Regions from separate parts of the Homo sapiens genome. Here region 2 is linked to region 1. The links come from fine-mapping of genetic effects on gene expression. A gene starts in region 1. The other region holds a variant in brackets. All regions are shown on one strand. Distances are between the middles of the regions. Region 1 holds the start of LINC02268 (long intergenic non-protein coding RNA 2268). Region 2 overlaps LINC02268 (long intergenic non-protein coding RNA 2268).

What was found.
Region 2: its variant is fine-mapped to the expression of LINC02268 in sigmoid colon (GTEx, PIP 0.95).

What each region holds. Positions count from the first base shown.
Region 1 is chr4:174,218,780-174,221,714 of GRCh38, forward strand. It overlaps LINC02268 (long intergenic non-protein coding RNA 2268), which reads right to left and starts at 1,619. Exons shown (of 5, transcript NR_125896.1): 1 at 1,535-1,619.
Region 2 is chr4:174,121,624-174,124,558 of GRCh38, forward strand. All of the region lies in intron 1 of LINC02268 (long intergenic non-protein coding RNA 2268), which reads right to left. Among named protein-coding and RNA genes, the nearest start is that of LINC02268, 97 kb to the right of the region's middle. The variant C/T (reference allele first, on the strand shown) is at 1,786.

The DNA of each region.
Region 1 (2,935 bases):
CCATTGGCGCGACGAAACTCAAAAATGGACAGCCCTCCCTTATTCATAAATATTACTTCAAATATGTTAAAGACGTTAAGTAATTTTTAGTCTCTTTAGAATTTCCAACGCTATAGTTTATTATGACAGATAAGGTTTGATTTGTGCTAGTCGCGTGCCAGGACACTGAAGGTGAAAAGAAGGAAAACAAGAAAGAGTTTCTAAAAGAATACACGTAACATTTAAGATAACTACATACAAAGTGCTCACTTAATTTCTCTTAAAACAGTTACAATGAATAAATTACATTTCCAACTTAATAAAATTTAATTCTCTTAGTCGTTTGTACAATTGATGGCCTTTGGTTATAAAATTTTACTTTTTGGAGAAATATTGCCCCTCTGTCAAATTATAGCACATGACAAATAATATAGCAAATAATAGGTTTGACTTTTAAACATACACAGTTATTTGAAACAAAATGTTTTTAACTTTCTGGCAGCATAGGCAAAACAGTAAAAGCACAGTTATATTTTAGGAATTATCTTAATACATTCCCCTCTATGATATCAGAACTTACTCCTGATTGAACCAAGGAAGAACAGCTAACTCTTCGGATAAAACAATTTTTTCTCCTTCATTCCCAGGCATGGTTTGGAAAGCAATAAATGCATATTTGCAAGAAGTCATGAAAAATCAAGATTAAAAATACTGTATAATCTTCCTGGTAAAACATATATACATTTTATATCTGACCATATGAAACTGTCATCTATAAGTATTACATTTTAATGAAGCATAACTCCTCATGATATATTTATTTCATAACAAATGGCAAAGGTAATATTACTTATCTTCAAGTATTTTTTCTTTTAAAAGCTCCTCCCACCAAATGAGAGACCTCTATTTAAACAGCAACTTCTATTGAAATATATGATCTGAAGGAATTCGCTATTTGAAAGTCTTTTGACAGCTTTACAGATTATATCTGTTGAGTTTTTTCTCTCTCTCTTATTTCCACAATTTACATGTGTGAATATATGGGTAACCCTCACTAACTTTTCAACATCAGTCACGCACATTAGGTAGAAAAAATTAATTTTGAAACTATTCTTTGTTTTTAAAATGATATATGTCATTACTGTTAGGTGAGTAAGCTAAGTGTGTTTTTTTGGAAGGGGAAGGTAGGTTAATCACAATGATAGAGCAAATATAAATAGTATTATGTTGTTGGTGTTAAAAGGCAAAACCTCTTAGTCTGTGAAGATCACCTACTTACCTTCTCTCCATTAAAAAAAGAGTTGAACTTTTTGGCTCCCTGTATAATGTGTGTTCTCCATAGATTTTATACTAAATATTAATATTAAGATTATAGAGCTAACCTTTTTCTAATGTCAAAGAGCTTTTGAACAATACAGGCACAAGAGAGAAAAGACACCTACCTCATACATTCACATCCCAAATTTCCTATCTCCAATGCAACAGGAATAATCTTTTTATTCCATTAAAATGGTCACTAACCTTATAATAATAAAGGCATGTTTTAATCTCTTACCTGAAGGAGTCTTATCAATGTAACAAGAACTGAAATTGTGACTGGTCCTTGTTGTCGTTTACAGTACAGAGATCTGTACTGTATTGCCTTTGTGGAGGGCTGAAGTAACAACATATGACTACTGCCTCCTGAGACCCTTATGAAAATAAGATATATAGCTGGTTCAAATAAATGTTTTAGGCCTTGACCCAGGAATATAATTGAGAAAAACAAATTATTTCACATACACTAAAACATAATTAAAATGTTATTCTAAGCTTTGCTTTTGTGTGTTATGTTGTATGTGCATACTAATGTTATCCTCAATCATAAAGCTATGTAAGAAATGATTGTACTTTTAAAAATGTTACGTAAACATCTTTTTTCCTAAAAGTGGCAAAAATTACCTTAGAAAGCAGTTACAGTGCAACTTTCACTTTTAAAGGTTTTCAAGATTGAATATTTTAATTCATAACATATTTCTCATTGTTAAAATTCTTTGGCTTCCTCATATCTGGCATTTAAAATTTTTCAGTTGTTTTGTAGACTATGTATGTAAGGTTGCATTTTTCACTGTCAACATAAAGTTATTGTTTGCTTTGGATTTAATATGTATTTGGATATGTATGCATATTTGTTTAAAACTATGAACTCTGGGGAGGGTTTTAATTCTATGCAACATAAGTCAGTTTTATATAATGAATATATACAACTTCAGCTAATAAAAAGTAAGATTTTAATCTTGACAATATATTCCTAAAATGCATTAAGATATTGTCAATCTAAAATGAGCTTGATTTGAGAACAAAAAGAATAAGTTCTTTTAATGAACTAGTGGTATATTGTTATATGTATATATGTTTTGCTGATTTTAGCAAGAAAATGGAAAATAATCCATAAGAAAATGGAAAATAATCCTCCTGCAAAAGAAACCTGAAGTGGATTACCTAATAAATTGTTTTCAGCCTGAATTTTAAGGTATCACGACATAGTCATGTTTGTTTTTTAAAATATCATTTTCAAAAATCAAAGACATTAATGGTATTCTCTATTTCAAAACTATGATCATTATTCTGCTTTTTGCCACCAATATTTATGCTAGGAGAAACATGTTTAAGAGTCATCAACACCTTGGGCTCATTGACCATACGAATGAGTCACATGGTCAAAATGAATAAAATGTTATTTAGAAAAAGGAAAAATATATATATATATTTATACATATGCATAGGTATTCTTTTTAAATGAATAAAAGGGCTTCATAATTTGGGACAGCAGAAAAAGGGAGTAGCAAGCATCACAGCCCAAAGCAAGAATGAAAGTAGCAATGGTGTCTAGACAAAGGAGCAAGGATATTTGCTTTTACAGTTAGTTTTATTTGGGATATCTTGGAAGAAAGAAGGGTAGGCTCTCAATGGCTAA
Region 2 (2,935 bases), 97 kb before region 1:
TATTTATTTTATTTTATGTATTTATTTATTTACTTTTTGAGATGGAGTCTCACACTGTTGCCTAGGCTGGAGTGCAATGGTGCAGTCTTGGCTCACTTCCACCTCTGCCTCCTGGCTTCAAGTGATTCCCCTGCCTCAGCCTCCCGAGTGGCTGGAATTACAGGTGCCCACCACCACGCCCGGCTAATTTTTTGTATTTTTAGTGGAGACTGGGTTTCACCATGTTGGCCAGGCTGGTCTCGAACTCCTGACCTCGTGATCCACCCACCTCGGCCTCCAAAAGTGCTGGGATTACAGGTGTAAGCCACCGTGCCCAGCCATAATATTTTCATTATTCCAAATGTGATGGAAAACCCATAACACTTAGCTGATGCAAATTGTTTAAAAAGTATCAGATACATAGATGAAAAGTCTTTTTAGTCAGATATTTGACTTTCTCTGCAGCAAAGCCTTGCCCCTCACCCTCAGCCCCAGCCAGCTGAGGGAAGAGTAATTAGCTCTCCAAAGAGAATAAGTGGTTAATGCAAGAACATGTTTATTTGCTCTAAGAAGACTGTCTTAAGGTTATATTCTCTACCCAGATTGCATCTTCACTGTTGACAACACAGTGTGTCACAGATGAAATTATGCTTGGGGTAAAATTAGTATTTCCTTCTCCAAACTGGAGATTAGAAAATAAATGGGTCAAGCATAGGAATGGGATAGTACACACATTAGCATTCTATGAACACACAGAGGGACTGGCAATTAGATTCATGGTAAATATTGCTGACATTCCCCTGATGCAAACTCACAAATATAAGAGAGAGAATTTTCTAGAACATGCTTATCAATGTATTTGTTTCTTTGTTCAACTCCCTTCTTAACATTGTCCAGACATCCTTTAAGCCTCCAACCTCCCCCAAAGACATGCATACAAACATATCCAAACACTTCATTTTTTCACGCAGTACCTTATAACACCTCTATTTAAGCCTTTAAATGATATGTTTACTTGTCTTTCTATCTCACTAGACTGTTAATTACAGCAGGCAGGGACCTTTTCTTTGTTAAACTTAGGACTTACTACTATGACTAGCATATAGTAGGCACTTTAACACCCTTGATTGAACTGAATGTACTGTGTTAATTTAAACAGTGCATTATTAATACTGGGACCAGATGAGTCTATCTTCCTCCTATGTCTCATTGCTAAGGAGCTGTGGATTCTCAATAGTAGAGTGTCACAAAGGGAGCAGCCTCTACTTCATTTGGAACTATTACAAAACATTGCTTTCCTCATGCTTTTTTTAGAGTATGGACAACAAAATTCTTTTCATACTGTTATGAAACACTTCTGATAGCTGGGCAACAGCTAGGAAGTCTCTTCAGTGAGGCCAGAGGCAAGAATCAGAGGATGTTATTCCCTTCATTTCCAGCGTATTATGTGGCAGGACAAAATTTTAAATTTCCTTCAAACACTTCATTCCTTCCCTTCTTCACCCATAGTAAGGAAGAACTTTTAGCATAATGACACACTGAAGTTAAACAATTAGACATGGTAAAATTTAGAGAAAGATGTTTGTTTCATTGTCATTGATATTTTTACTGTTCGAATAGTTCACTCTGGAAAAATCTCCAAAGACAACCTGAGCTTGTTCCTAGGATGAATTTATCTATTCCTATAAATGGAGCCAAGAATAAAAGTCTCAGAGCCTTTGACCTTAGCATGTTACTAAACAGAAGCCAGGACCTTGGAGCAAGGGATGGAGTAGGCAGATGGGTAGAAAAAAACAGGAGAATGGC[C/T]CCTTGACTTCTGTTTGAAGTGAACTCTCTGAACTAAAAGGTGCTGTGATGGAAAAACACTTGGCAGCACTTTCCAGATTCTATGCATCTTTATAATAAGCAAACATTAAGATTATTTTTCAGTAAAATCATCTTTCTGATAATGGTCTATATCCACATATCCTTCCAGATGTTGGAGGAAATAATGAAGTGATTACAGTCACTGGATTTCTAGACAAAGCTGAATGAACAGCAATCTTGGGGGGTGGTGTTTATTAAGGCATCAGCAAGTTTAATATGGAAGGAAGGGAGCCATTTCACACTTTTCTATCCAACTAGTAGCTAGCTTGTCTGACATTAGGTTGCTTGTGGATGCATTGCTTTGTCAAATATTTTTAGAACTTTAAAGGAAAGAGCACTTGTTGATTCCTCAATTGGATTGTCCACAGCTTGAAGACAAGCCGAAGACATGGTGATATTTATTGTTTCCTTCTATCTCCTCTGCAATCTTAACCTTCCACTGTCATCCACAGATAGTATTTCTCCCCAAAACAAATTGTACATGTGGATAAACTCTTGAGTTTGTTGTGCACAGAATGATGCTAATACTGGAAGGAGTTTAAAGAGTGCAGCAGGGTGGTAGAAAATATAACTGTCATGATGAAATGTGGAGGTAATTAAGGCAAGTGTAAAGAATTACAATTTTGTGCCTGATGATTTTTAAATAATAATAATAGTCACTATTTACCGAGCATTGATCAGGTGCAAATTACCATGCTAGATCATTTTCATATGTCACCTAATTTCATTCTCACAAACACCCTGTAATATTGAATATTACTAGCCTGGACTGGAGGGACTGACTTGCCCAAGGTCACTCTGTATGTAAGTGGCAGAGCTGGTACTCAAACCTGGATCTGTCAGACCCCAAGTTCCTGATTTCAGCTTCTACAAAGAAAAACATTTTCTGTGCTTCACCAGGAGTGTGTTTTGGTTGTTTGTTTGTTAGTATGTGTATCTATTTATGTGAGAGGGATTGTAGTTTTACTCAAGATAACTTAAGAAATGTGACAATAGAGATAGATACGATATTCCAGACAATGTAAAGAATGTCATGGTAAGGTCCCAACAAAATATTTTTAAATCAAGGGTATATTTCGCCATATTTTTT